7 linked regions of the Homo sapiens genome follow. The protein of the gene in region 1 purifies or fractionates together with the protein of each later gene. This does not show direct contact. Each region holds a gene or a part of one and is shown in the gene's direction. Other genes may lie near its edges. The genes, in order: RHOBTB1, MYO5A, GRSF1, AMY1C, CCDC138, MOB2 and WDR43.

Region 1 (3,500 bases):
ACCCAGAGGAAGAAAGGGAGGAGGGCCCGCCTAGGATTCCTCAGGCCGACCAGTGGAAGTCTTCAAACAAGAGCCTGGTGGAGGCTCTGGGGCTGGAAGCCGAGGGTGCAGTTCCTGAGACACAGACTTTGACCGGATGGAGTAAGGGGTTCATTGGCATGCACAGGGAAATGCAAGTCAACCCCATTTCAAAGCGGATGGGGCCCATGACTGTGGTCAGGATGGACGCTTCAGTCCAGCCAGGCCCTTTTCGGACCCTGCTCCAGTTTCTTTATACGGGACAACTGGATGAAAAGGAAAAGGATTTGGTGGGCCTGGCTCAGATCGCAGAGGTCCTCGAGATGTTCGATTTGAGGATGATGGTGGAAAACATCATGAACAAGGAAGCCTTCATGAACCAGGAGATTACGAAAGCCTTTCACGTAAGGAAAGCCAATCGGATAAAAGAGTGTCTCAGCAAGGGAACGTTCTCGGGTGAGTGGGCCGCGGGGCAGAGCCATTAATACCTTTGATTGTGTTTCATTGAACGTTAGCCAGACATGAGCAGGAGAAAGAAGAACGATAGCTAACATTTATACGTACTTATTTTTTCCCATGTACCTTTCTAAGCTACAGGCATTAACTTCTTTAATCCTCATCAGACTTAAAGGTTAAATATGATTGTCTCCATTTTGCAGGTGGAGAAACCAAGGGACAGAGAGGTTAGGTAATCTGCCCATGGTCACACCAGCAATAAATGGTAGAGCCAGGATTTGAACCCATGCTCTTGTGGGTATCAAAACCTGTTCCATAAACCACCATGGTACCACACTGCTCCTCAAGAGTGGATCAGGGACCCCAAGCCTATCTCCAGTGGGCTTGTTGCATACAATTCCCCTTCAGAATCTATTCTCTGACCAATTCTATTCTCCATTGACCCTTCAGCACTGACCCATGACAAAAATCAGTGATCTCAAGTCCTGAGGCCACTAAAGTCCTTGAGGCAATTTTGGTGGCCCTCCATCTTCCTACAAGGGGTGTCTCATCTGTTTCCATCCCCTCTCCTTTTCCGTCCTCATGCTCCTTGGCCCTGCACTTCTGTAGTTTTCCTGCACCTCCTTTGCCTTTGATAACTATGCCATATGCTGCCCGCAGCACCCTTTCATAATTGTTAAGCATGCTGGTGGCCCGCATCCAATATGGGTTATTGACCCATGCTTGTACTGTCTTACACTTGGACTATTTTTGTTCTGAAATTGTTCTCTGGGCTGGTGTGTGGGTGTGTGTAATTTCATCGTAAAATGTTGACTTCCTGACTTCTATTTATATGGATACCTCTACCTTTGTCTTTATCTTTTATAATCCCTGCCAGGGCATTACACATTTAGTAAGTGGTTCCTAAAGACTCAGTTCATTCATTTTAAAGCTTATGAGTAGTATTTACTTCAAACACTGGCCATTGTGTTACAGAAACAGTCTTGAAAATTAATGAAAAGAATATGTTACAAACCTACAGTAACTTAAACAGTGAGCTTTAGGTAGAGTTGATTAAATCACCTCCTCCTTACTGGAGAGGCATAATAATCAAATACAATGTGGGAGTCTCAATTGGATTCTGTTTTTTTTTTTTTAAAGCTATGAAATACGATTTAGGGATAATTGGAGAAATTTGAATATGAACAATATAGTGGATGATAATAGGGAATTATTTTTAATTTTCTTAGGTGTAATCATAGTATGGTTATTTAGGAGACTGTTGTTATTTTGGGAAAACTTGTGATAAGGTAGTTAGGAGTGAAGTGCCATGCTATCTGTAAAAAAAAAAAAGTCTATACACATACACAAAATTATACAAAAATACACATATAGCCAGGCATGGTGGCTAATTTGCCCACAGTCCCAGCTACTTCAGAGACTGAGACAGTAGGATTGCTGGAACCCGGCAGTTTAAATCCAGCCTGGACAACATAGCCAGACCCACCCCCCCCCACATCTCTTAAAAAAAACAGTAATTCGGTTACATTTTGGTATAGCATACGAGTAGAGCATATTATAAATGTAAGGTTTAATTGAGTATTAATAAGTAAAATGGTGTAAATTAAAAATATACGTAAAACAAACATGCCAAAATGTTAACAAGGATAAATGAGTGGTCATCATACTGTTCGTTCCACTGTTTTATATGCTTGAAGTTTTGCATAGCAAGGAGGAAAAAATATTCCCTCCTTTCTATTACTTTCTGGTTCAGAGAGTTTGTGCCGTGACTTTATGTGTGATGATGTCAAATACAGCATGCTGCCTTAGGTGGGAGCTGGGTGTGTCAAAGCTCAAAGATGGGGATTGACATAAAATCAGTAAGTAAAGACATGCAAGAGAGAGTAAGGGAGTCGCAGTTTGGTGGCTATGGGAGCAGAAGCCTTGGTTGAAGCTCTCAGCAAAGTTGGCTCATGGTTGTGTTTCCTCAATCCCTTGGCAGACGTGACATTTAAATTGGACGATGGAGCCATCAGTGCCCACAAGCCGCTGCTGATCTGTAGCTGTGAGTGGATGGCAGCCATGTTCGGGGGGTCATTTGTGGAAAGTGCCAACAGTGAGGTACGTGCCTTCCTAAAAGCATAGTGGTGTCTTTATGAATGTATGTGTGCCTGTGTATTTATATAAAGTGGGTAAACAGCCAGATGACTTTAATCCTTAAACTGGCTCCATGAGTGGTCATCATACTGTTAGTCATAATCATAAGGAGCTATTGCTCCTTAGTAGTGCTTGAGGGTTTGGTCACCTTTTTCTTAGATCTGCAGTTTTGAGGAGCTATTGTTTATTGGTCACTGGTGTGGGGGCACCTGGGTGCTTTACATGCCATATATCTTTTCATCCTCAGAGCCGTCCTCATCCATGAAGACAAGATCAGCTGTACCTCTTGGCAAATGTCACCAGGCATGGTACTATCAAAACCAAGTACAAGAGGAGCATGTCTCCCAGTAGTTCAGAAAGGGAAAAGAGTTCTTCAGCCACCTAAGTCCTGGGCTTAGCTATGCCCCTAACCAGACAGGGGACCTTGAGAAGCCGCATTCCTGTGCCTCAACCTCCTCATCTGCAAGCTGAGGGATGCACTAGATTGTCCTTCAGGTTACCATGTGCTACAATACTGTCTAAGGCTCTGCCCTGACTCTGCCTGTGTTGAGGGGATATGAGGGTTTGTTAACTTTAGGGCAACAGTAATGGAGCAAATGTTTACTCCCCTGAACACACCTCTCAAGGTACTTAGGTCTAGCGGAAGCAGCTACATCACTTGTCAGCCCCTGGCTCTATCTCTAGAAGAGACATATGCTTAGAGAAGAGCAAACAGCATCTTGGATACCCTGTGTCTTTGTCTTTCTTGTTGTTTTACTTTTAACTGACAAATAATAATTATTATACATAGTTATGGGGTACATGATGTTTCAATATACATATACTGTGGAATGATCAAATCGGGTTAATTAGCCTATCCATCACCTCAGATGTTTACCATTTCTTTGTGA
Region 2 (4,636 bases), on another chromosome or scaffold:
CCAGACCCATACCACTCCCCTCTCCCACGTTTTCTCCAAGATGGTTGTCAGTGCCCTGCTTTTCTTACTGTTTTTGCCTCTGGGGCTCAGATAACATGGAGAATGCTTATCTTAACCCGAACTGCTACCTACCACTCTCAAAAGCCCACCCAAGACACACACACTTGTTCTATCACAAGGCTACTGCTTCTTAACGCTTCTTATTTTAGAAAAGACACCATTAAGTTTACTTAGATTCATAGTAAATTTTTGCAATTAAGAATTATTCCTTCAGTAAAGTTTAAAATCCGGAAGCCCTTTTGTAGTGAAGTTCCTTTTCCCTCTATTTTGGCACCCAGATCATTTTTTTCTTTTTTGAAATGGAGTCTCTCTCTGTCACCCAGCCTGGAGCCCAGATATGTGGTCTCAGCTCACTGCAGCCTTTGCCTCCCAAGTTCAAGTGATTGTCCTGCCTCAGCCTTCTGAGTAGCTGGGATTACAGGCACACGCTACCACGCCTGGCTAATTTTTGTATTTTCAATAGAGACGGGGTTTCCTTATGTTGGCCAGGCTGGTCTTGAACTCCTGGCCTCCAGTGATCCACCCACCTCGGCGGCCTCCCAAAGTGCTGGGATTACAGATGTGAGCCACCGTGCCCAGCTAATTTTCCTAAGTTGAATGTGCATGTGTTTGTGCACATGGATATGTGCACATGAAAGGTTCCCTTCCACATCATCTCCTCTAACAATTGAAATACTCCTGCAGTCTCAGGCATGCTGGAACATGAAACGATTCAGGGCGTGTCTGGGGTGAAGCCCACAGGGTTGAGAAAGCGAACCTCCAGTATCGCCGATGAGGGCACCTACACACTGGACTCCATCCTCCGGCAGCTCAACTCCTTCCACTCGGTCATGTGTCAGCATGGCATGGACCCTGAACTGATCAAGCAGGTGGTCAAGCAGATGTTCTACATCATAGGGGCCATCACCCTGAACAACCTTCTCCTGCGGAAGGACATGTGCTCCTGGAGTAAAGGCATGCAGATCAGGTGAGCAAATGCCAACACCTGCGACAGTGTCTTTTTGCTGCCCAGCTGGCCTGCCAGGGTTGTGGAGAGCTGATGACTTGTTTTCAGTTCTTGCATCTCATGTCTGGTGCCATGTGGCCAAGCAGCAAGGGAGAAACTGGCACGGAGCCACTTTCCCTTGCCTGGCTGGATTTCACCACATCTCATTATTGCTCCCTGTCTGTACCCTGCCAACAGGTTCTTCACATTCTTGATAGGAAACCCTTTTCCACTGTGAAGCTTGCTTATTTGGGGGAGTGAAGAGATGATGCAAAAATACACAAAGATGAGATAGCTGCTTCCTCTCCTTATGTGTGTGTTTTAATTATACAATAAGAAATTATTAAATTATAATAATGAAGATTTCTAATGTTTGATTGCTCTTAGAAATATATTTTTGGAAAAATACCTTTTTGTACCTATGGCAACAAGAACAGGTCTGATAGATCTTTTACTAATTCTTAAAATATCCCCCCTCTATATTTTAAGAAAAGCTGCACTTAATTTTATGCCCAATACTCCTCAGCATAACCTCATTATTGTAACATAATTTTTTTGCAAATTTTTTTTTTTTTTTTTTTTTTTGAGATGGAGTTTTGCTCTTGTTGCCCAGGCTGGAGTGCAATGGCGCCATCTCGGCTCACTGCAACCTCTGCCTCCTGGGTTGAAGCAATTCTCCTGCCTCAGCCTCCCAAGTAGCTGGGATTACAGGCATGCACCACCACACCCAGCTAATTTTTGTATTTTTTGTAGAGACAGGGTTTCACCATGTTGGCCAGGATGGTCTCAAACTCCTGACCTCAGGTGATCCACCTGTCTCGGCCTCCCAAAATGCTGGGATTACAGGTGTGAGCCACCGTGCTGGGCCACAAATTTTTTATTTTAAAACAGCTAGAATATTCACCAAGAGGAGGGAAAAATGATTTCTCCTATCAAAGTCTTAGTAGTTACTCAATCTCAGGAACTGTTAGTGTTCTTTTCAAATTTTCCATCCTGACTTACATTGAAGTGTAGTGAATTTTAAGACAATAATGCCTTCCTCTCAGATAGTGGAGCATATTTCTCTATAAGCTCTGCATGGAAATGTGGAGCCACCTGTCGCAATATTATGCTGGCCCCTATTTGCCTGGTTGCTAAGTGCTGATTGTGTGTCTATTGACCTCAGTCTTAGGACTGCTGCCACTTGGTTGGCTATTTTGTGAAACCTACAATGTCTTTGTAGTTTGTCTCTGTCACCATTTGGAGTCTTTGTCTCTTCCAGTGGCCCTCCCTTGCCTCTCTCTCCTTTCATCCCGGAGCTTTCTCAGGCCACCATCTTCATCTCCTAGGCTCTTCCCTTAAGGCTTCAGCACAGGTATATGTGGGGCTTTTGGTTATTCAGTTACCTGATTTGGAGTTTGCCTTAAGAGAGAGTGCTTCAAGGATTATCAAGTCTCACCCTGCAACAGCAACCCAGCTCTGAAATTGTAAGAGAAGCTACAAAGTGTTTTCTGGCCAGCTCCCCAATAAAGACAGAGCTACATTATGTTATTCTATTTTGTTTATTAGCAAGTCTAATAACTTTTGCCATAATGACTTCATTTCCATCTTCCATTAAAGAGAATTACATTATCTTGTCATTTAGTCTTATATAATGGTGATTATAATCCTCATGACTATAATAAATTTTTAAGCACAGCTGATGAGATTTAAGAAAATTGAACAAAAATACTGCCTGTCATTTTAACATAAATCCTGACAAGGCCGCACACAAAAAAATTAAGACATTTTTGACAAAATTCAGCAAATTTGCATTCTCTGTATCTCTTTTTTTTCATAGGTACAATGTCAGTCAACTGGAAGAATGGCTGCGTGACAAGAATCTGATGAATAGTGGGGCTAAAGAAACCCTGGAACCTCTCATTCAGGCTGCTCAACTTTTGCAAGTGAAAAAGAAAACAGATGATGATGCAGAAGCCATTTGTTCTATGTGCAATGCTTTAACTACTGCCCAGGTAGAGCAACTTTCCCTGTTACAAAATAATTTAACATTCATCAAAGATGATCTTTAGGGAAGTAAAGAAGTCCTCTACTTATTGCTTGTATCTCTGAGCTGACTTCATCTGTGTTCAAGAAGATATATGCCTCTACCAATCTTAAAGCAAGGAGATTTTGCCAGAAATTAATACATTTCAGTGCTAATTACAGTATAAATATATTTAATATTCAGCAAATATTTATTGAGTACTTACAGTGTTCTATATAACATTGAAGGCACTGGGATACACCCATAGGCAAAACAAAGTCTCTGCTCTCATGGAGTATACAGTCTATGCAGCTTATATTCCATAAAATAGCTTTCTATCTTATTTGATAATTGAGTGGATTATCAAATAGTGACTTTGTTTTTAGAGACAGATAATTCTTGTTACTTCAACAGATGATTAATTAAGCCTCCATCTCAAGGCACCATATTTATTGCTGGGGAAGATGCTTCAATAAATAAGGAAAAATTCCTGCCTTCAAGGAGCTTACAGTTCAGTAGGGAAGACAGAGTCGTATCCAACTGACTCTACCGTAGAGGTTCTAGCAAATTCTGTAGTAAGATGCCTAAAGGAAGTACTGAGGGAAGATAGCAGTATTCAGGGAAGGTCCCATTAATCTGGGCATTGAATTTAAGGAAGTGGAAGAATGAGAAGGGCATTTGAGGATTATAGTGACAGCATGAAGCAAGGCACAGGCATGAACATGCCCAATTTTCTTTTGCCCGGTTATTTTCTGTGCTGACTCTTAGACTTTCTTTCTTTTTTTTTTTTTTTTTTTTTTTTTGTGACGGAGTCTCGCTGTGTCGCCCAGGTTGGAGTGCAGTGGTATGATCTCCACTCACTGCAAGCTCCCCCTCCCAGGTTCACGCCATTCTCCTGCCTCAGCCTCTGGAGTAGCTGGGACTACAGGCACCTGCCACCACGCCTGGCTAATTTTTTGTATTTTTAGTAAAGATGGGGTTTCACCATGTTAACCAGGATGGTCTCGATCTCCTGACCTCATGATCCACCCGCCTCAGCCTCCCAAAGTGTTGGGATTACAGGCGTGAGCCACAGTGCCCAGCCAACTTTCTTAATGTTCATCATATATCCTACAACATATGAAATTTTCAGTTTTGCCCAATACAATTAAAACTCAATCAGTTTGAGACCAGCCTGACCAACATGGTGAAACCCCATCTCTACTAAAAATACAAAAATTAGCCGGGCATGGTGGCAGGCACCTGTAATCCCAGCTACTCTGGAGGCTGAGGCAGGAGAATTGCTGGAACCTGGGAGACGGAGGTTGCAGTGAGCCAAGATTGCACCACTGCACTCCAGCCTGGGCAACAGAAAAAATCAGTAGGCCAGGCGTGCTGGCTCACACCTGTAATCCCAGCACTTTGGGAGGCTGAGGCAGACAGATCACCTGAGGTCAGGAGTTCAAGACCAGCCAGGCCAACATGGTGAAACCCCATCTCTACAAAAATACAAAAATTAGCCAGGCATTGTGGCGGGTGCCTGTAATCCCAGCTACTTGGGAGGCTGAGGCAGGAGAATGACTTGAACCTGGGAGGCAGAAGTGGCA
Region 3 (4,636 bases), on another chromosome or scaffold:
TAGAACAATAGGCATGTGCCGCCACACCTGGCTGTGTGTATGTGTGTGTGCGTGCGTGCGTGTGTGTTTGTAGGTGGGGTCTTGCTGTGTTGCCCTGGCTGGCCTCAAACTCATGGGCTCAAGTGATCGCCCGCTTTGGCTTCCCAAAACGCTAGGATTACAGGTGTGAGCCACTGCACCTGACCACTGATTCTCTTGAACTAGAGCAAATCCCCCTTACTTATTCTTCCCCCCTTTTTAAAAGCAATTGACTTTTGAAGAAATTAGATCAGTTGTCTTGTACAGTATCTCATGTTGACATCACCTCAGGATGCACATGATGATAAGTGGGTTCATTTGTGTTTTAACTTTAACTTTGGAGGTACAGTTTAAAATGTCAAATGTTAAATCACTGTTTCGTTAATTTTTTTTTTTACTGTTTTCTGGCCTTTTAAATCAGCTCCTTTGAAGTAAACAAAACAGCCATTCCAAAGCCAGTGTTTCAGGATCTACTGATAGAAGTGGTTCAAAGGTTTTTTGGTTTTTTGAGACAGGATCTTGCTCTGTCACCCAGGCTGAAGTGCAGTGCCACAAACACTGCTCATTTCAGCCTTGACCTTCTGGGCTCAAGCAGTCCTGCCATCTCAGCTTTCCTTGTAGCTGGTACCACAGGCATGCATCACCATGCCTGGCTAATTTTAGACAGAGTCTTATTCTGTTACCCTCGCTGGAGTGCAGTTGTGTGATACAGCTCACTGCAGTTGTGGCCTCCTGGGCTCAAGCAATCCTCCCACTTCAGCCTCCCAAGTAGCTGGGACTACAGATACATGCCACCACACCCAGCTAATTTTTGTATTTTTGTAGAGACGGGGTTTTGCATGTTGCCCAAGCTGGTCTCACACTCCTGAGCTCAAGTGATCCACCTGCCTCAGCCTCCCAAAGTACTGGGATTATAGGTGTGAGCCACTGTACCTGGTCTCCTGGCTAATTAAAAAAAAAAACAAAAAAAAACTTTTGTAGAGATGGTGTCTCACTTTGTTGTCCAGGCTCAAAGGTTTTTTTTTTAAAGAAGTAGTGCTCATCTAATCTTTATAGATTTGTAAACACAAGCTAGTTTTATAACTCTTAGTTTAGAAGGCCATGTTAAGAAAAAGGAAACTGTGCTGGGCGCGGTGGCCCATGCCTATAATCCCAGCACTTTGGGAGGCCGAAGTGGGAGGATCACTTGAGCCCAGGAGTTCAAGAGCAACTTGGGCAACATGGCAAGAACCCATGTCTACAAAAATAAAAAATAAAAAAATTAGCAGTGTGTGGGCTGGGCATGGTGGCTCATGCCTATAATCCCAGCACTTTGGGAGGCTGAGGCAGGTGAATCACCTGAGGTCTGGAGTTTGAGACCAGCCTGGCCAACATAGTGAAACCCTGTCTCTACTAAAAATACAAAAAATCAGCTGGGCGTGGTGGCGGGCGCCTGTAATTCCAGCTACTCAGGAGGCTGAGGCAGGAGAACTGCTTGAACCCAGGAGGCAGAGGTTGCAGTGAGCCAAGATCGTGCCATTGCACTCCAGCCTGGGCAACAAAAGCAAAACTCTGCTTCAAAAAAAAAAAAAAAAAATTAGCAGTGTGTGGTGGCAGGTGGCAGTAGTCCCCAGCTACTCAGGAGGCTGAGGCAGGAGGATCACTTGAGCCTAGGAGGTTGAGGCTGCAGTGAGCCATGTTCACACCACTGCACACCATCTTGGGTGACAGCAAGAAACCCAAGTTTCAAAAAAAAAAATTGTTCCAGAAGCTTGGGTTTAATAGATAGTCCCCTCCTGTGATAGCAAGTCATAATTGATACTTAGTTCTTGAATTCTCAGCCTTTTAGTGAAGTTCTGGGGAAGTTAGCTCTTCTTTTACTGTGACTTTTAATATCTTATACAGATATGATTAATTTGCACAGAATTGAATTTCAGAGCTTCAAGAGATTGTTAACCAGCAATTTAAAAAACCCTTATGAGATTAATTTTTTCTGTATACACAATTAACTTAAGCATAGTTGTTCTCATGAAGCAAAACAGAGTAGAAAATATTATTAAAATGTATGTGAAGAAAAAGTGTTACCTTGATGCAAAAACTTAAATCAGTGACCTACTCTGTTGTATATTTTCATGGGCTACTATCTGTATGCATTATTAGTTTTCCCTACCTGTTATCTTTTGACACCTGTGTTTCATAAGCTGTTGGAAATATAATGTATACATGTTTATTTTAAATGAGTTCAGTATAAAGTTACTTTGCACCATTTGTGCCTGTTTACTTTTGCTTTGACATAGATACATCGAGATATTTCCAAGCAGAAGGAATGAAGTTCGAACACATGTCGGTTCTTATAAGGGAAAGAAAATCGCATCTTTTCCTACTGCTAAGTATATAACTGAGCCAGAAATGGTCTTTGAAGAACATGAAGTAAATGAGGATATTCAACCCATGACAGCTTTTGAAAGTGAGAAGGAAATAGGTAAGGTCCTGCCTCTTCTTGAGACTCATTGGGTCTATCTTGAATGTTTTGGGTTTTGTGATTTTTTTTTTTTTGAGATGAAGTCTCGCTCTGTTGCCAGGCTGGAGTGCAGTGGTGCGATCTCGGCTGACTGCAGCCTCTACCTCCTGGGTTCAAGTGATTCTCCTGCCTCAGCCTCTTTGAGTAGCTGGGACTACAGGCGCATGCCGCCACGCGCAGCCAATTTTTATATTTTTAGTAGAGATAGGGTTTCGCCACGTTGGCCAGGCTGGTCTGGAACTCTTGACCTCAAGTGAGCCGCAGCCTCCTAAAGTGCTGGGATTACAGGTGTGAGCCAACACACCCGGCCTAAAGATTTAATAGGACTTTACATACTTTGAGTATATGCAGAAAGGCTTAATTATTTTGCTAGGTTTTTAATTTAATCATTTTTATTAACTATATCAAAAGCTGGGTAGTAAAAATGTGATAAAAGGAAGTAAGATGTCAACATTTAAATTAAGATGGGGGAAGATTTGGATAATGAGCAGGAATATTGACTGAAGTAAGGATTTTTTTTTTTTTGAGACAGAGTTTCACTCTGTTGCCCAGGCTGGAGTGCAGTGGCGCACTCTCGGCTCACTGCAGGTTCCGCCTCCCAGGTTCACGCCATCATCCTGCCTCAGCCTCCCGAGTAGCTGGGACTACAGGCGCCTGCCACCGTGCCCGGCTAATTTTTATATTTTTAGTAGAGACGGGGTTTCCCCGTGTTGGCCAGGCTGGCGTTGAACTACTGACCTCAGGTGATCTGCCGGCCTCTGCTTCCCAAAGTGCTGGGATTACAGGCATGAGCCACTGTGCCCGCCTGAAGTAAGGATTTTTGTTTGCTTCTGGATTTAATTATTTCTTTGATTCCTAACCCAGGGCAACATTTGGAATCTTTTAAGTTTCATAAATACTTTTTAAACTGGTACCCTGGGATTATCTTGTCACTATATATATGTGTATATATATTTTTGTTTTTTGAGACAAAGTCTTGTTCTGTGGCCCATTCTGGAGTGCAGTGGCACAATCATGGCTCACTGCAACCTTGAACTCCTGGGCTCAGGCAGTTCTTCCACCCCAGCCTCCTGAGTAGCTGGAACTATAGGCATGCATCACCATGCCCAGCTAACTTATTTTTATTTTTATTTTTTGTAGAGACAGTGTCTGGCTGTGTTGCCCAGGCTGGTCTCGAACTCCTGGGCTCAAGTGATTCTCCTGCTTCAGCCTTCCAAAGTGTTGGGATTACAAGTGTGAGCTACCACGCCCAGCCTTTGTTCTTTTTTTTTTTTTTCAGTGCCTATAATCTAGAAAGTCTCTTTTAGGGTTTAATTCATAATCATTTTACCTGCTCTCTGATGTTACAAAAAGGGCTAAGTTCTTAAACTGGTAATGGTCTGAGGCATTCAGTGCTTATGGGTGTTCAGGTGATATTTGTTGAGTGGCAGAAATTTCAGATCATTTTGGCTTTTAATGCTCTTAAGAGGAATTGAGGATTTGGACATAAAAGTCATACCTAATTAGAATCTGTTAATAACCCTTGAAGCTGTTATGTTTTAACAGTGCTTTCTGTTCCACCTCTCAGAATTGCCTAAGGAGGTGCCAGAAAAGCTTCCAGAGGCTGCTGATTTTGGAACTACGTCTTCTCTGCATTTTGTCCACATGAGAGGATTACCTTTCCAAGCCAATGCCCAAGACATTATAAACGTGTGTGGCAGTAAGATATCCAATCTCAATAGATTTGAACAAAAGTTCTAAAATTGAACTTGTATTAATTTGGGGAAGGTAGAGAAGAAAATATAGTGTTTCTGCGTTGGATAGTAAGATGGCATCTTCCTGGTTGCAAAGCTTGCTTCTTTTTCTGTAGCTGAAAAGTGTGGCTTGGTATTACTTTTTTTTGTGACAGAGTCTCGCTCTGTCGCCCAGGCTGGAGTGCAGTGGAGTGAACTTGGCTCACTGCAACCTCTGCCTCCCGGGTTCAAGCATTTCTTCCGCCTTGGTCTACCGAGTAGCTGGGATTACAGGCAGGCGCCACCATGCCCGGCTAATTTTAGTATTTTCAGTAGAGATGGGGTTTCACCATGTTGGCCAGGCTGGTTTTGATCTCCTGACCTCAAGCGATCCACTGTCCTCGGC
Region 4 (4,283 bases), on another chromosome or scaffold:
AAGGAGTGATATATGCCTTTTGTTGTAGACATGTAGCTAATTGAACTTCGTTGTAAATATGAATTTAGATCTCTTAGGGACAGAGGTTAACAAGTTTGACTACTTTAAGAAACTCAAATCCATATTTGAAAACCTTTAAATATTGATTTAAGATTTTTAATCAATACACATTTGTCCACTTTTAAAAAGCTCCCAACCAATTGAAAAACTCATCGACTTTATTTCCTAAGTTCTCTATTTTCTATTAGAAAATATTTCCAAGATACATCTATAGTAGAATGTGAGCATCCCCAGTGTCCAATGCAAGGAAGTCACCATAGAATATCTCTTGAGGAATCATGGAATAAATGAATAATCAAATGGATTCTCAGGCGAAAAGTGAGGTTTTATTAATCAATCATAACATTCTTACCTCAACAGGTCAGAGATTGTCGTCTGTCTGGTCTTCTCGATCTTGCACTGGGGAAGGATTATGTGCGTTCTAAGATTGCCGAATATATGAACCATCTCATTGACATTGGTGTTGCAGGGTTCAGAATTGATGCTTCCAAGCACATGTGGCCTGGAGACATAAAGGCAATTTTGGACAAACTGCATAATCTAAACAGTAACTGGTTCCCGGAAGGTAGTAAACCTTTCATTTACCAGGAGGTACGTCAATACATATAGGCATATAAAATATCATCCTATTCATTAGAAAATTCACGGCAGATTCAATTAAAAATGCAATTTCTGTAGGATAAAGACTGAGTCATTTCCTTAAAACAGTGTTCTTTAACCTCCTCTTCTTCACATACAGCATATCTAATTCTTTATCACAACAGGTTTTATGGAGGTACACAGAATGTAGGATACTGATAATAGTTATGTCTTTATTTTCTTTGGAAAATGAAATGAGTTAATATTTATCAAAAAAAGTCAGTCAGATAGTAAATATCGTATTCCTGTGAGCTGTTATTATTATCATTGATGTACAAGACTAAAAATTAGGTAAGTATTCTCACAGGACAACAGGTAACTTTGACATTATGTTTCTTTCAATATTGTAGTGTATACTTTATCAAAAAAAGAATATAAGAATATTACCGATGAAGATAATAAGAATAAGAAAACGATTTTGAGCGTTTCATATAACAAATAGGACCAGGCGTGGTGGCTCTTGCATGTAACTCAGCACTTTGGGAGGCTGAGGCAGGAGAATTCCTTGAGGCCTGGAGTTTGGGACCATCCTGGACGATATAGCAAGACCCTGTCTCTAAAGAACAAAGCACAACAAGTCTAAAATAACTCAGAAATAGCTGAAAGCTAATTTTTATATAATATAAACTTATCGGTTAAAATGCTTTAAAGTCCTTATGCAAAATGTTTTTTTTTCCTAAATTTCTTCTAGGTAATTGATCTGGGTGGTGAGCCAATTAAAAGCAGTGACTACTTTGGTAATGGCCGGGTGACAGAATTCAAGTATGGTGCAAAACTCGGCACAGTTATTCGCAAGTGGAATGGAGAGAAGATGTCTTACTTAAAGTAAATAAATACAACTTTTCCCCTGAACTATTTCATAGATCTGTTAGTCATACTACCCCAGTGCGAGTTATCTTCTGGAACATTCTTATTCAGACAACTATTAAGGAGTCAGTTGTTAATGATAAGTATTCTAGTGCCCTAAACTCTAATCAATCATCTTTTGTATTTAGAGTGTCTGTCACAAGACAGTATGCCTAGGAACGCTAAACTTACCCTAGGAGTTTCTGTCTGCGTACAAGATGAATATACTGGATTTGACTGATGTTTGCATATAATCTTTTAAAGCCAGGTTATTATTAAAATGATCCTATCATTTATAAAGTATGTACAAAGTGTCCATGCTATTGTATTTACTTATACGAATTGGAAATGTAAAATGATTTATATTATAACAATACAATATTAAAGCCTTATTTTAATCTAGTTTGACATTCTGTATAATGTGATGTGGATATTGATCCTTCTGGAGTGCCTCTAAATGATAATGTGCTGAAACCTCTGAAAGGAAATTTTTTAATAACAAACATTTTATATTTGTAATATGAATATAAGTATTCCATACATGTATATACAAATATGGACTATATATATGTAGATTACACACGTGTGTTTGTTTATGAGGTGTGTGTGTATATATATGTGAGTGTGTGTTTGTGTGTGTGTGTGTATATATATATATCTTACAGAGTAACCATCTAATTAGAGAAAGAATTTAATCTTCAGATGCCATGCCTTACAGAAAGAGATGCACAGTAGAGTTACTCTCAAACTATTGTGAAATGATACATCAACGTATATCTTATGTTTCAAAAATAGGAACTGGGGAGAAGGTTGGGGTTTCATGCCTTCTGACAGAGCGCTTGTCTTTGTGGATAACCATGACAATCAACGAGGACATGGCGCTGGAGGAGCCTCTATACTTACCTTCTGGGATGCTAGGTAGAAAACCAAGTTCTCTATTTTTTAACACCTCTTTTAATGATGGTATGAATATTGTGATATTCTATGATAATATAATTATGTAACTTTCAGGCTGTACAAAATGGCAGTTGGATTTATGCTTGCTCATCCTTATGGATTTACACGAGTAATGTCAAGCTACCGTTGGCCAAGATATTTTGAAAATGGAAAAGTAAGTTTTGGAGTTGTTCAAAATATCCTTTTCTCAAGAAAAAAGAGGCAATCTTCTCCTAATTTAATATGACAACTATTAAGTGTTTATTTATTCAACAAATATTTAATTATTGTAAACCTGATACAGGGTTGTGATTTAGTAATGCAGGTTATATTAAAGGAATAAACTTTATATTCTCCATTGAAAAAGAATAGCAAGCTTTTTCAGAGATATGACAAACATCCCCCTAGCCCGCAGGGAAAATAAAAATAAAAATTAAAAAAACCACTTAAAAATAAGAGCTAGGCACAGGGATTAAAATATATACTTCGTACCTTCCTCAGGTTTAATTGGAAGAATATAGATGCCAACCCTTGTAGAGAACTTAAAACATCATCTGCCCGTAGTGAGAACAATATAAATGTCTTTTAAATACTGTTAAAAAGTTATATGGTATAGAAACAAATGATCCAGTTCAGCTGAGTTAAATAGGGAAAGTATACTATAAGAGGAAGGAAATTGTATGTACTAAAGGATAGAAATTTATAGAGAGTATTCCAAGAAAGGTAAGAATGAGAAAAATATTTGGGAGTATGGTAAAGACATCACTCTGCTGAGTAGTTTCAAAAAGGAACAGAGAAATAAGAGTGTAAAGATATTTGGAAAGCTAGTAGAAGGTTTTCTTTTAAACTAAAGGGTTGAGAAACAGCATCAGAGACTTCAGAACTAAAGCAGAAATTCCTCCTTCCTATGAGTCACACAGATATCTAGCTAGCTTTTTTTAGATTCCTTTCAGTTTGAGAAGTCCGCTACTATGTATAACAACTGATTCTATTGTTAAACAGCTTTAATATTTAGAAGGTGTACTTTTATATTGAGACAACTTCTTATAATTTCTACTAATTGGTCTTATTTCTGTTGTTAGGAGTCAGAGAGTTCTTTTATTTTTTCTATTACTATAACATTCCCACTTTGACAGGACTGCTGCATGCTATAAACTCTTAAGTTTTGTTCACTTTTCACCATATGACGTGATTTTAAGGTGAACACTGATAAACTTCCTAGGGTTACTCTGTGTTTTTTAATGAAGATTTCTTAAAGTGCCAATCAGAAAAGCATAATACTAAAAATATGGTCAATTTATAAAAAAAAATGTTCAGATGTAGTATTTTGTACATTTATCTAAAAAGAAGCATGACGGCCTCCAATATTTATTTAGCATATGTCATGTTCAAGGCATTTTCACATATATTACTTAATTTTTATAGCAAAAGAACTCATTATTCTCATTTTACAAATGAGGAAACTGAGACACAGAGAAATTATTTATATTGATTAAATTTTCTCAGCTACTAGTAATAGAGCCTATGTTTTAATCCTGGTGTTTCTAGTACTAATGCCCTTCCCATTTCAATGCCATTGCATGGCTTACAGTGATGTTAAGAAGCCCTTGCAGGCCAGGTGCAGTGGCTCACACCTATAATCCCAGCACTGTGTGCGGCCAGCTGAGAAGGTCAGCTGACCTGAGGAGTTCAAGACCTATCTGGGCAAGCTAGCAAGACCTTGCCTCTACTGAAAATTAAAAAAAAAAAAAAAATTAGCTGGGTGCGGTGGTGCACACCAACAGTCTTAGCTACTTGGGAGG
Region 5 (4,636 bases), on another chromosome or scaffold:
AAAAATTGTACTGACAATATATTTAAATTAGATTGCACTGCTTGTGTGTCTGACCACTCAACCATTTGGCCTTTGTCACCTGTAAAACCTCAATAGATTTGTTTTTAATTTTAGATGCAGAAATTTAAAAGCTAAAACTTATCCACATTGCAGGATCAATACTGAGTTAGGAACCAGTTGGTCACAAATTTTCATGCAGATAGGGGAAACTGCTATAAAAACTCAGTCACATGAGATTGGAGAATTGGGTCATAATAAAGGAAATTTTAAGTTTTTACCAAATCTGGTTTAAGCATTCTGATCTGCAACAGTTTGAAATGCTTTCCTTTCATTTGATTTTTTTTTTTTTTTTTTGAGATGGAGTCTCGCTCTGTCACCCAGGCTGGAGTGCAGTGGTGCGACCTCGGCTCACTGCAAGCTCCGCCTCCCGTGTTCACACCATTCTCCTGTCTCAGCCTCCCAAGTAGCTGGGACTATGGGCACCCGCCACCACGCCTGGCTATTTTTTTGTATTTTTAGTAGAGATGGGGTTTCACCATGTTAGCCAGGATGGTCTCGATCTCCTGACCTCATGATCTGCCTGCCTCGGCGTCCCAAAGTGTTGGGATTACAGGCGTGAGCCACCGCGCCCAGCCTCATTTTATTCTTAATAGATATATCAAATACCATTAGATCATATATTATTTTAGAGGTAGTTTCATGCTACTATTTCTATTTTGCCCATTTTTTTTTGTTTTATTCTCCATGAGAATTATCTATGATTCTAACCCAGTATTTTACTGTTTTGAAATTGCTAAAAGTTTTTGGAGTCACTATGACTTTTTAAATCAGAGTTAGCTGAAGGGACTGAGGCTCTAGATAATCATTTCTTAAGTGAACACAGAAGGATGTGCCTGATAAGCTGGTTTTCATTGATGGTGGAGCAATCAGCAACTGAGAGAGTAGGTAGTCCACCTCTGTTCCCTTGCTATTTCTCTGTGTCAGAAATATAGCATGATCTTATGTTCTTACATGTTTTAGAAAAATGTACAGTCACAAATAATTTTTTAAGTTGATAAAATTGTCACTTTCCAATTTTACATATTTTCAACTTTAAATTAGCCACAGATTTCACTTACTTTTAATACATATATTTGATTTAATATTTAAAATAGTTATTGGCCAGGCACAGTGGCTCATGATCCTGTAATCCCAGCATTTTGGGAGGTCAAGGTAGGAGGATCACTTGAGCCCAAGAGTTCGAGACCAGCCTCAGCAACTTAGTGAGACCCATCTCTACCGAAAAAAAAAAAAAACCTGAGTGTGGTAGTGAGTGCCTGTAGTCCCAGCTTCTTGGGAGGCTGAGGTAGGAGGATTGCTTGAGCCCAGGAGTTTGAGGCTGCAGTGAGCCATGATTGCGCTACTGCATTCCAACCTGGGCAACAGAGCAAGACTGTGTCTCAAAAAAAAAGATATATTCTGAACATGAATAAATATACTAAGATTGTACATATTTTTAACAGCACTCGACTATGACATCAACATTGAGGAGATTGGGTGAAGACATTTTTAAAGGAGTGGTAACTAAAGGAATTCAGGATAATTCTCCACAGCATTCTGTGGAGAATAAACCAAAGACAGCTGCTTTCTTTAAGAGCTCCAATTTGCCATTGAGATTTTTATCAACCTTAATTGTTCTCAAAACAGTCACTCAAGGTAAGCTTTCAATTGTACTTATGGTTAATTTTGAGAAACAATAGAGAATATCATATATTAAAGCAATTCTTTTATCAAATATGTTGTACATTTTCAGAATGAGGTTTTGAATTGTTTTATAATGGTTACACATTATAAAAAGCTACTTTTATTTGCTGAATTTGAGAAATTGAAGTCTTTAGTTGGATTCTTGCCTCCTCCCAAGAGGCCTTTGATTGTCTTAGGTCATATTCCCATAACAACCTTTGCCTACATCTATTTGTATTTGTCACATCAAATTGAAATTGCTAGTTAATTATTTTCCACTAGCGAATGTGTTGGTAAACTAGTCCATGGGCAAAATCTGGCCTACCACCTGTTTTGTAAATGAAGTTTTCTCCCACAACCATGCTCATTTGTTGTATATTGTCTATGACTCTTTGCCCTACAGTGACAGAGTTGAGTAGTTGGCAGCAGAGACTGTATGGCCCCCCAAAGCCTATAATACTGTCATCTGGCCCTTTACAGAAAATGTTTTTCAGTGCTTGCACTAGCTTGTAAGTTTCCCAAAGAAAAAACTTGTTTATAATGACCCTGCACCTAGTGTAGTGCTTCATATATAATAGTGAATAAGGAAATGGATGAATTAGAAATCCTTCAAAGTTGGCCCTAATTAATATGTGTTTAATATTTAGCTATAACAGGTTATATTATTAAATGTGATAATTTTTGTTAAAGTGAGTTATGCCAGTGTAGTCAGGCAATAAATATACCATCTTTCTGTCTTCCCTGTTTGTTAAATTTTTTGTTAAGCTCAGATTGTTGTTTTTATTAATGGGCAATGACAGTCATTTAATTTGACTTCTTTCTTTGAAGTATGTTTCATTTAGTTACTCCCGATGGTATGGAATTGATGAAAAAGTAAAAAACCATATAACTGCCTTCTTAATTATTTTGCCTCCTTATGGTTATGGTTCTCAAGATTACAATAGACTAGGTGGTTAGTGTGTGAAAGGTCACTTACGAGAAGCAGGGATTAGCTCAAAATAAAGTTCGCCACAGACCTATCTCCAAATCTTAAAAAAAAATACACACACGCTTACATACCCACAGGTAAATGGATTCTAAATAAGAATTTTAGCTGACACATCATAGCCACACATTAAAGCATAGATTCACTAAAGATCAAATAATATTAGTATCAAGAATTTGAAGCCAATTTAATATAAGAAAAATTATTAATCATTTATCATTTAACTAAGATGTTTGAAATAATATGTCAACATACATTATATCATTTAATAACATGTAATGTTCATTTCTGATAATATGCTAAGAAAAGCAAAAATGCAATAAGGGATATTTATGTGAAATAGAAGGGAATTAGGTGCTCTCTGTCACCACTTGTGTGCAGCAGTTTTGGACATCTGTAATGAGCCATGAAAAAATGAAGTATGAATATTGGGAAGGAGTAGAGAAGACCGTTAATTTGTGGAGACTCTGTATTAATCGAGGGCTTTCAAAGAAATATAACAGGGCATAAGAATATGGATAAATAATGGATGGATGAATAGGTTGATGAAGATTATTGCTGAAGTTAAATGTCAGAAATAAAGAACTTTTATTCTTCCTGCCTATGAAGACGAAGTGTTTTAAAAATAAGATGTCCCATATGGCTTAATGTATAATACCAGTTAAAATTCTAATATAGTTTGCGTAAGTTGAGGAAGTGTTAGGGAAATTTATGTGGAAAAATTTGCAACAAATGCGATGATTTATAACAAGTAAAACAGCAACACTGGGGCAGAGGCTTAGCCAACTTTAAAACAATCCTAATATGTAATGATACAAAATGAGTAATAATTTATTTAATAAATCAAAATAGGACAAAGGGAATAGGAAGTCCAGAAATGAATCAAAATTGGCACTTCATATTATGTATTGAATTAATGACTTTGCTTCCCTGTGCAAGTCATTTTTTTAAGAACATAGAATCTTAAATCATATGATACAGATGATAGAATTAGTAGACAAGTCTTTACTGCAGTTATTATAACTATATCCCTGTGTTCAAGAAGGTAAAGGAAAACATGAGCCTGGTAAGGGGATACATGGAAGATACGGGATAAAAAGACTTCAATCAGATTTCTGCAAATGAAAAACCCAGTGCCTGAAATTTAAAAATACACTGGAGAGAATTAGACACTGCAGACAAACGACTAGTGAACTGGGATACATAGCAATAGAAACTGTCCAAAATGAATTACACAGAGAAAAAAAATCTACAAAAAAGAAAACAGAACATCAGTGAGTTTTGAGACAAAATCATATATTCTAATATTATGTACTTAGAGTCTATGAAGAGGGGAGACAAAAACTATTTCAAGACATAATGGCTCCAAATTTTTGAAATATGGTGAAAACTATAAACACACAAATCCAAGGAGCATGTCCAGCTGAGCTCATGGTCACTCCTATTCCCTTTTCCTTAGCCTCCTCTAGATACATGTGTGCCATCCCTTTCCTCCACACCCTGGCCACTGGATTTCAGGAATACTGCCTCCCATGGTGACTCTCCATGACCTTTTCAGTGGCTTCATCACCTCTCCCTAGACCACAGACAGGCCCTGACACGTCTCCCTGCCTTCACTCTCTAGTCTCCCTTCACACTTGTTGTGAACGATTCTTTCTCACAAGGTTCCTGCCTAACAGATACCCTTTAAAGCTGCAGGCTCCTCAGCCTGGTGGCCTCAAAAAAGAAAAAGAAAAAAAAATCTGACACTAATCACTGTGGAACAAGGAAGAGATACAAGAGTTCTCCCTTTCCTTATAGTCTGGCCTCTCCCAGCCTAGGCACAAGGGTTTCTTATGAGCCCAAACCTGTGGGGTTCCAGTGTTCATCTACTACCTGGGGCCAAGGTACATGCTGCTGCCATCAAGAAAGAAGCCTGAATGCTGATGA
Region 6 (4,636 bases), on another chromosome or scaffold:
CCGAGGAAGGAAGTGACCAGGAATAAGAAGGTTATCTAATTAGAAAAGGAGCAGCTCTTGAAGAAATCCTGCCATAAATGTGTGTGCGCCAGACAACAGGGCTTTCCACACAAAGCAAACGGACGGCCTGTGTAGAAATCACATGATCGCCGGGGATTGCAGCCCTCTCCTCAGTGATGGAGCCTCATAGACAGTCAGCGAGAGCACGGAGCCCGATGACCCCACCCGTGGGTTGGATTGAAATGACACATGCACTGCAGCCTCAACAGCAGAACACCCATCTTTTCAACTTCACAAAGATTAGCCACCAAGATGGAGCATACCTGTCACAAAAGAGCCCTTAACAAATTTTAAAAAATCAAAACCATACGAAGTAAGTTTTCTGACCATGGTGGGGTTAAATTAGAAATCAGTAACAGAGAACAGGAAAGTCTCCAAACACTTGCAGACTAATACAATTCTGAGTAGTCCATGGGTCCGAGAGGATGCCTCAACAAAAAAACTTTAACAAACTGTACACAGGAAAATACAGCATGTCAGAATTTGTGAGACATAACTCAAGCAGTGCCTAGAGGGGATTTATAGGATTAATGCTTTCTTAGAAAAAGAAGATGACTTTCAGTAATCTACGTTTCCAACTTAAACTAGAAAAAGAGCAAAATAAGTCAAAATCAAGGACAAGAAAGTAAATAAGAACAGAAAGCACTGAGATTGATTTTTAAAACAATAGGGGAAATGAGTGAAATCAAAATGTGATGACTTTGAAAGGTAATAAATTGGTAAGCCTTTAGTAGGTACAAAGATAAGAGAGAAGATGCAATGATCAATAAAAAGGAGTGAGTGTCACTAAACCCTGTGGATGTAAAGAGGAGTATCACTGTAGACCCAGTGGATGTTAAAAGGATAATAAGGAAGTATTGGAAAAAAACCCTCTGTGCACATGAATTCTATGGCTTGGGTTAAATGGACCAACTCTTTGGAAAGCGCAGTATATCAGAACTCGCCTAAGATAGGCAGTGCCATAAGGTAAGAAGAAAGAATAAAAGGCATCCAAATTGGAAAAGAAATAAAACAATAAGCCCCCCTTATCTACAGTTTCCGTTACCCACAGTCAACTATGGTCTGAAAATAGTTAATGGAAAATTCCCGAAATAAACAGTTAATAAGTTTTCAACTGCATGCTGTTCTGAGCAGTGTGATGCGGTCTCCACCGTCCTGCTCCAGGTGTGCCTCCTCCTCCCTCGGCCCAGCTGTGCCTCGGCCCCCGTGTGGATCCACTGCCGCAGTGCCAGGGTGCTCGTGCTCAGGTTGCTCTTATGTGACATGAGGCGGCCCAAAGCGCAAGAGCGTGATGCTGGCAATTCAGATATGCCAAAGAGAAGACAGAAAGCACTTCCTTGACCTAAAGATGAAAAGGTGAAAGTTCCTGACTAGAAAGAAACAGATTGTGTGTGAGGTTGCTAAGATCTAAGGTAAGAACAAATCTCTTCTTTATGAAATTGTGAAAAAGGGAAAAAAAGTCCCTTTAATTTCGCTGTTACATCTGAAATTGCAAAAGTGACAGCCACAGTGCGTGTTGAGTACTTGGATCTGTGGGTGGAGGAGGTGAGAGGATGGGAGCAGCAGCGTGTTGCCATTGAGCCTGCAGGAGGCCAGCAAGGGACCCCCTGATATGCGACCCCAGCCACTCACTGCAACTGATTGTCCTCAGTTTATGAATTACACTGGGTGTGGTGGCTCACACCTGTAATCCTGGCTACTCAGGAGGCTGAGGCGGTGGATCACTTCAGGAGTTCGAGACTAACTTAGCAACACAGCGAGACCCTATCTCAGTCAATCAATCAAGTCTGCCTGTCTTTATTTTAGTAATGTATGTATAGGAGAAAGCGCAGCATATATAGGGTTTGGTGCTCTCTGTGGCTTCAGGCATCCCCTGGGGGTCTTGCAGTGCATCCCCTGTGGATGGGGGGGATTGCTGTATCCCTGTGCACACGTGTGATTGGGAAAACCTCAAGGATTGTAGCAAATAATAATATAAATTTAGTGAGGTCAACACGCACAAATCAGTCATAGGTCTGTATATTAGCAATGTGAAATTTAAAACTGAAATTAATATTTAACATGCCATTTATAATAGCTCCAAAAATAATGCGATCCTTAGTTATAAACTTAACAAGACATTCCCAGGATCTGCACCCTGGAAACTACGAAATGCTGTTACAGAAAATCGAAGGTCTACATAAATGGAGAGACGCACTGCGTTTATCACCTGGAAGATGACTCCAAACACAAATTCTCCCCCAAACTGATCTGTTGATTTAGTGCAGTCTCAATCCAAATCCCAGCAGAGTTCAAGTATAGACCAGTTAGTTCTAAAATTTATATGGAGGGACAAATTAACTGAAATAGCTACAATGATTTTGAAAAAATAAGAGGAATCTCACACTTTTGAGACTTACTGTGAAACTCTAGTAATTAAGACAGTGTGCAGTGTTGAAGGAATGGATACAGAGCTCCATGGAACACAGTAGAGTCCAGAGATAGCCCCACACAAACGTGTGGACGGAGAGTCCGGAGACAGCCCCACACAAACGTGTGGATGGAGAGTCCGGAGATAGACCCACACAAACGTGTGGATGGAGAGTCCGGAGACAGCCCCACACAAACGTGTGGATGGAGAGTCCGGAGATAGACCCACACAAACGGGGCCATCAGAGTTTTGACAAAGAGCAAAATAAATTCAAGGGAGAAAGGGTAGTCTGTTCAAAAATGCTGCTGGGAAAAGCAGTCATTTGTGTCAAAAACCAAACGCTGACCTATCCCTCATGCCTCGTGCAAACATCTAAAACTCCAAAGCTTTTGGAAGAAACCATAGGAAATCCTTATGACCTGACACTAGGCAGCAAAATTCAGAACTTTTGCTTCAAGACACTTTTAAGAGAAAGAAGACAAACTCCAGGCTGGGAGAGAAAACATTTGCAAATCACACATCCCACAAAGGACTGATATCCAGAATACATAAAGAACATACACAACTCAGCAGTAAGAAAACAAAACAGTCCAGTTAACTGTCAGCAAAAGAAATGAGCAGACAGTTTGCCAAAGAGGGTGTAAGGATGGCAGCTGGGGCTATCCTGTGTTGTTAGCAATTAGAGAAAGGCAAGCCGAAACCATGGGCAGACCCATGTCCACCTGCCCACATGCCGGTCGGGACACTGGTGCTGGCCAGGATGTGGCCACCTGGGACTCTGTTCTGCTGGCAGGGACACAGGTGAATAGATGAGCACGCCATGTCCATCTCTGCAGGGGCAGTGTCTGGGCAGTGAGGAGCCGTGGACTTCCGACACGTCTGCCACGTGACTGCATCCCAGGGGCCTCCGTGCAAGAGGGGCCCAGATCGGGAGGATCCGCGCGGTGCGATTCCTTCCCGCGGCCCATCCCTGAGGAGCCATCCCCGGGGTGCTGGGGGCACAGCAGCACGGGTGTGAGGGGCCACGTAAGCCGCCGCGTGTCCTGATTGTGGTTATGAATGCGTGAGTCCACATGTGGATAAAAATCTTAGAACTATATACCAGAAACGGTTTACTGATAATTGAAGAAGTACAGGAAACAGTGGTGTTCCATCTTTCAGAACAGATGGGACAATCCACAGTGTCCCTGAGTTACTGCTTTCTCTGGGTTTGCATTGTGGAAAAGGGTTTCCGTCTCTAACCTCCACTGTTTTGAGACCTGTCGCACACCTGTGGCCAGGTGCATCAGATGTCAGCTTGCAGTGTCAGGGTACCTGGAGCCAGTGTCTGACTCCTGCAGAGTGCTGAGCCATCCTGGCTGGGTCCTCGCCCTGGAAACATGGGCCTCAGCCTGGCCCTTAGGGGCTGGGCCTCCCCTACACCATCTGGGAACCCCAGGACAGTGGGGATACGTGCGTCCTCTACATCATTCTCGAGGAGCAGATGCTGAAAGGACTGTTGTCTCTGCATTCTCAGAGGGTCTGACAGCCTGGTGGCGATGCCCACGGTGAGGCCTGCAGCCTGGGAAGGTGGGCGTGAAGGTCATGCAGAGCTGTCCCAGGGGGAGGACAGCACCTGAGAGGCAGGTGTGGGCACTGCATCCCCGTCCTCATGGCCTGTCCATTTTGGGGCTGCACTTCCCCTTCGGGTGGGCTGAGTCAGCCCCGCACAGGGCACACATGAGAGCTCCTGGTTTGCATTCTGGAGGTGGGTGCTGGGAGGGGGTTGTCCTAGGGCCCTGGTGGTGCTGGGAGGTGGCCTGATGGCTGTTTCTGTTGCAGAGGGCAGGGTGCCAGCATGCAGGGCTTGCAGTGTCATCCTCTAGCTTCTTGGTAACTCTGGTGACTCCCCCCGGGATCTGCAGTGCACAGGCTGAGGGGCTTCTTGGACACAGCAGAGGGGTGCCCAGAGACGCTGGAGGCCCTGTGCCCAGAGATGCTGGAGGCCCTGTGCCCGGAGACGCTGGAGGCCCTGTGCCCGGAGACACTGGAGGCCCTGTGCCCAGCTGGGAGGATGGCTTCTCTGGCTGCGCAGGAAGTGGGCGAGCCCCCCGTGGCCCTGTCTCAGCCCTTGGGGCGTCTCCCCAGGTGCCTTGGTGGGCTCTGGAACCCAGGGCACGATGCTTG
Region 7 (4,636 bases), on another chromosome or scaffold:
AACATTCAGTTTTCAGTGACTGAGTTCTGTTATCTTTTTGAAAACGTCAACATAAGATCTTCCTTTGGCAAGCCTTCTCTAATTAAAATAGGCAAGTCCGTGGCAAAAATCTGTAATTCATCAGATAAGAAAAGAAAAGGCACAAGTATAATACAGTGACAAAAAAGGGCATTAGTTATGGAAGATTTTTTTTTTCTTTTCTTTTTTTTTTTTTTTAAGACAGTCTCAGTCTGTTGCCTAGGTTGTAGTGCAGTGCTGTGATCACAGCTTGCTGCAGCCTCAACCTCCTGGGCTCAATGCAATCTTCCTGTCTCAGCCTCCTGAGTAGCTGGGACTACAGGCGTGCACCACCATGCCCGGCCAACTTTGGTATTTTTTTGTAAAGACAGAGTTTCACTATGTTGCCCAGGATGGTCTCAAACTCCTGGGCTCAAGTGATCCCAATGTGCTTGGATTACAGGTGTGAGCCACCATGCCTGGCCAGGTATGGAAAATATTTAAATAGAAGAACATTATATGAACAAACTTAGTGTAAATACATTTAAAAGTCTAGGTGGTATAGTTAATTTTTAAGGAAACATTAATGACCAAAATTGACTTTAAAAGAAATAAAAAGTTTGAAAAAGCCAGTAGCTCTAAAATTGACTTTATAAAACTTCTCACAAGATATGCCCAGATATTTTGAAGGTTATTTGATCAGGCCTTCAAAGAACAAATCTTTTCTTTTCTTTTTTGCACAGACTCTCTCTGTTGCTCAGGCTGGAGTGCAGTGGCTCGAGGTCAATCATAGCTCACTGCAGCCTCAAACTCTTACACTCAAGCGATCATCCTGCTTCAGCCTCTAGAGTAGCTGGGACTGTTGAGCCACCATGCCTGGCCAATTTTCTTTTTTTAAAGGTAGAGATGAGGTCTCTTTGTTGCCCAAGCTGATCTTGTACACCGTGGCCTCAAAAACGGTCTTCTCGCGTCAGCTTCCCAAAGTGCTGGGAATAGAAGCATGACCCACAACACTGGGCTGTCCTTTTTGTCATGTACTGGCAATTTAGTCATTTTATGAGCCAAGTATAATCTTGATAACAAAACCTGGAAATGTCAAAAAGGGAACATTTTAGATCATCCTCAAATACCCTGAGTAGCAAATTGATTATAGAAGTGTAGGGTTACAGAGTTAATGTGCAATAATAGACAGCTAGACCAATAGATTGGCAATAGCTACCCCTGAAAAACCCGTAGTTCTGTGGACTCTTGGTGTGTTTATTGATGGTGTGTATTGTATCATTGTGGAGAAGATAGCCTGCTCAGTAAGTTGTTAGAAACACTGATAATTTATATGGAACAAAAAATTTTACCATTATCACATCACACATCACATTCCATATTGTGAGAAATGGATAAATTTGAAAGAGTGAAAATGGTCAGGTGTTGGCCATGATTTGGGAAATGGGAGCTCATGCTGTGGTGGGAGTACATGTGCATTCTTTTTAGAGAGCAACTTTGTAATCTCAAAGTTGACAATTTGCATATCCTTCCATTCATCAAGTGCAGTCCCAAAGTGATCCCAAAGTGCTTGTGTGTATCCCAGTGACCAATACTTCTCCAAGTATGAACAGAGGACCTGTGGGGATGCCCAGAACTCTTTGAGCGGCTCATGATGTCCTCCGCTTTTCAATCGGTCATCTGTGGGAGGCTAGATTTTCTTCATATAGTTCAAATAAAACAACATATCCAAAAAATAGAGTGGAGAAGCAGATATGAGAAGTTTTTAATAGTGCCATTCTACTTAGTAGAATTTGTTGTTGTTTTGGAAATTCCATTTTTCAATTTTAGTGTATGTGCTGCCGAAGAGAGCACAGAAATACTGTTTTTCATTAAATTGATTTGTGTTAACATGTAATGGATGGGCATTTGTAAACAGATTAAATATTCTTAAATTTAAAAATTGAATTTGAATGTGATAAATATAGATAGACTTTTCCCACATAAACAAAAACTTTTTGGAGACCTCAGTTTTTTAAGAATGTGAAAGCATTTTAAGGCTAAAAGGCTTGACAACATAGCTTTAAAACATATATGTAGAGATTATATAAGTATGTTCATTGCAGCCTTTATAATTAAGAAAAAGACTTGTGAACAACATAATTCTTCATTAGTGGGAGCATGTTTAAAATGGTTTATTCCTTTAGCATAACACTACATTGGTGAGAGTGCCTGGAGTTGAGATCGAGTTAACACGCATAAGTTTGATTACAAAACCAAGTCAAAAAATGATACCTTCTGTGTAGCATCGTGTAATTGTATTAGTAAGCAAAATAAGGGTGGCTTGAACATAAGCTCCGCGATACTGCAACATTCGATTTGATAACTGAGGTGGCTACTAAACGACTAACGGGTGGCTAGTGTAGACAGCGAAGCTGGACAAAGGGATGATTTACCTCTCCGGCCAGGCGGAGCCAGATAGCACGGCACTTCATCACGCTGCACATAACAGGGCGCAATTTAAAACTTAGGGATCCTGGATTTGGTACATTTTCCATTTAATATTTTTGGATTGCAGTTGCCAGGGGAAACTGAAACTGGGGAAAAGGAACACATATTGGGGGAACTGCTGCATATGTCTTTCATGAATATGTACATGTGTAATTCATGGGTAGTATGATGTATGTGTTATAACAGCATACTGGAGAATGAGAAGCTCACAATAGTGGTTTCTTTTGGGGAATGGGCTTAGGGAGATGGGCATGTAAGGGAACTTCATCTGGAGATAATGATTTATTTTCTTAAGAAAAAGTAGATAGAAGAAGAATGTTAGAATATCTTAAAAAAATAGGAATCCCATTCTGTATTATTGGATAACATTAGCACACCTAATGAAATCAATTCCTTAGTTTTATCCAATGCCCAGTTTATCTTCATCTTTCTCCAGTTATCCGTAAAATATCCTTTAAAGCTGTTTTTCCCAAACTAGACTCGAGTTTTGCATCATGGGGTTGAATCTGGCTACTGTGTTTCTGAAGACTCTTTTTAGTCTTTAAGAACTCCCTTTTTCATGACATGGACTTGGTGAAGAGACTGGGAAGTGTATTTCACAGAATGCCCCACCTTATGTTTGTGGATTTGCTTCCTTTTGGTTTCTTTTAATTTGCTCCTCTAAGCTACAGTTCCTTTAAACTGGATGTGAGGCCTAAAGGTTTGATTGGATTTTATTTTTGGAGGGTTGCATCAATGCTGATCGTTCATATTGCAGCACACTAAGAACCACATTGTGCCTGTTATCAGTTTTTTCCTCTCCATTGTGAGATATATCTTCCTTAGTGCTTAGAAAATAATCTAGCTGTGTTAATTTTTGTTTTAACGTTTGCATGTTTTCCCCCAACAATCATACATCTAATATATCAGTTGCTAATATTTCATTATTAGTACTTTATGGGTTAAATAATGCTAATTCTTCCATTTCGTTTATAAGCCAGCTTTTCTGTGTTGAATTTTTCCTCATCCACTGGGGCTATTTGGTGGCCCTGATAGGGCTTAGTATTTAAAGATGAGATTTTTGTAAGGGTTTGGCTAGTTGGTTTGGACCGGTGAGATCTTGAAGGAATAATATAATGAATATACTTTTATACATGTAAGAATAAATTAGCCAGGTGTGGTGGCTCATGCCTATAATCCCAGCACTTTGGGAGGCAGACGTGAGCGGATCCTTTGAGTCCAGGAGTTTGAGATCGGCCTGGGCAACATGGTGAAACCCTGTCTATACCAAAAATTAGCTGGGTGTGGCGGCTACTCAGGAGGCTGAGGCAGGAGCCTGAGGCTTGAACCTGGGAGGCAGAGGTTGCAGTGAGCCAAGATTGCTCCACTGCACTCCAGCCTGCAAAAAAAAAAAATAATAAAATAATGTTATTTCTTAGTTGGATGATTGCTAAATATAAATAATATTTCTAAAAGTAAATTCAGGAATCTGGTTCTGCTTAATTTCCAGGCTGTACCCTCTGTTTTGTTCTAAAATTAAGGCTGGGTTCTTTCTCCCCTTACAGAGTCTTCTGAAGAGGAGTCTGATGATGAAATAGCAGATAAGGATTCTGAAGTGAGTGATTTGTTCCCTGTATATACATCGGCCTTTATATCCTCATACTCTGTAAGAATGAGACCTTCATGAATGCTTTCCTTGTTGGTATTTCGACTAGGATAATTGGGATGAAGATGAGGAGGAGAGTGAAAGTGAAAAAGATGAGGACGTTGAAGAGGAAGATGAGGATGCCGAAGGAAAAGATGAAGAAAATGGCGAGGACAGAGATACAGCAAGTGAAAAAGAATTAAATGGAGATTCTGATTTAGATCCTGAAAATGAAAGTGAAGAAGAATGAAGACAGCAAAGCAAGCCGGTCAAACTATATAAACTCTGGCTCACCTTGCCCAGTGGTGAGGGCTGCCTCTGTGCCAGGATGCCAAGGACCGCTGCACATTTCCAAATTCACAGCAGTGGATCCCATGCCACTTTGCTGTCCTGAGCACCCCAGACTTGACTGTGTAAATAAGAGTGTTTCATTCAAATGTTAATAAACTTTACACAGTATATAGACACATTTTCTGCAATGTACTGACATCAGTGTCCAATATATGGTATATTTTTATAATATAA

Evidence for each region.
Region 2: the proteins of RHOBTB1 (region 1) and MYO5A purify together in Homo sapiens (affinity purification with mass spectrometry, with the first as the bait; one large-scale study listed by BioGRID). This does not show direct contact.
Region 3: the proteins of RHOBTB1 (region 1) and GRSF1 purify together in Homo sapiens (affinity purification with mass spectrometry, with the first as the bait; one large-scale study listed by BioGRID). This does not show direct contact.
Region 4: the proteins of RHOBTB1 (region 1) and AMY1C purify together in Homo sapiens (affinity purification with mass spectrometry, with the first as the bait; 2 studies listed by BioGRID). This does not show direct contact.
Region 5: the proteins of RHOBTB1 (region 1) and CCDC138 purify together in Homo sapiens (affinity purification with mass spectrometry, with the first as the bait; one large-scale study listed by BioGRID). This does not show direct contact.
Region 6: the proteins of RHOBTB1 (region 1) and MOB2 purify together in Homo sapiens (affinity purification with mass spectrometry, with the first as the bait; one large-scale study listed by BioGRID). This does not show direct contact.
Region 7: the proteins of RHOBTB1 (region 1) and WDR43 purify together in Homo sapiens (affinity purification with mass spectrometry, with the first as the bait; one large-scale study listed by BioGRID). This does not show direct contact.

What each region holds. Positions count from the first base shown.
Region 1 is NC_000010.11:60,885,186-60,888,685, reverse strand, and holds part of RHOBTB1 (rho-related BTB domain-containing protein 1), read left to right. Parts: coding exon 1-474; intron 475-2,455; coding exon 2,456-2,574; intron 2,575-2,857; coding exon of another isoform or gene 2,858-2,875; exon of another isoform or gene 2,876-3,500.
Region 2 is NC_000015.10:52,315,451-52,320,086, reverse strand, and holds part of MYO5A (unconventional myosin-Va), read left to right. Parts: intron 1-744; coding exon 745-1,027; intron 1,028-2,864; coding exon 2,865-3,039; intron 3,040-4,636. UniProt on the Homo sapiens protein: Processive actin-based motor that can move in large steps approximating the 36-nm pseudo-repeat of the actin filament. Can hydrolyze ATP in the presence of actin, which is essential for its function as a motor protein. Involved in melanosome transport.
Region 3 is NC_000004.12:70,825,695-70,830,330, reverse strand, and holds part of GRSF1 (G-rich sequence factor 1), read left to right. Parts: intron 1-2,294; coding exon 2,295-2,479; intron 2,480-4,085; coding exon 4,086-4,207; intron 4,208-4,636. UniProt on the Homo sapiens protein: Regulator of post-transcriptional mitochondrial gene expression, required for assembly of the mitochondrial ribosome and for recruitment of mRNA and lncRNA. Binds RNAs containing the 14 base G-rich element.
Region 4 is NC_000001.11:103,752,159-103,756,441, forward strand, and holds part of AMY1C (alpha-amylase 1C precursor), read left to right. Parts: intron 1-420; coding exon 421-651; intron 652-1,390; coding exon 1,391-1,524; intron 1,525-2,340; coding exon 2,341-2,463; intron 2,464-2,556; coding exon 2,557-2,656; intron 2,657-4,283. UniProt on the Homo sapiens protein: Calcium-binding enzyme that initiates starch digestion in the oral cavity.
Region 5 is NC_000002.12:108,845,236-108,849,871, forward strand, and holds part of CCDC138 (coiled-coil domain-containing protein 138), read left to right. Parts: intron 1-1,502; coding exon 1,503-1,695; intron 1,696-4,636.
Region 6 is NC_000011.10:1,472,681-1,477,316, reverse strand, and holds part of MOB2 (MOB kinase activator 2), read left to right. Parts: intron 1-4,636. UniProt on the Homo sapiens protein: Stimulates the autophosphorylation and kinase activity of STK38 and STK38L.
Region 7 is NC_000002.12:28,942,419-28,947,054, forward strand, and holds part of WDR43 (WD repeat-containing protein 43), read left to right. Parts: intron 1-4,031; coding exon 4,032-4,081; intron 4,082-4,181; coding exon 4,182-4,361; 3' UTR 4,362-4,636. UniProt on the Homo sapiens protein: Ribosome biogenesis factor that coordinates hyperactive transcription and ribogenesis. Part of the small subunit (SSU) processome, first precursor of the small eukaryotic ribosomal subunit.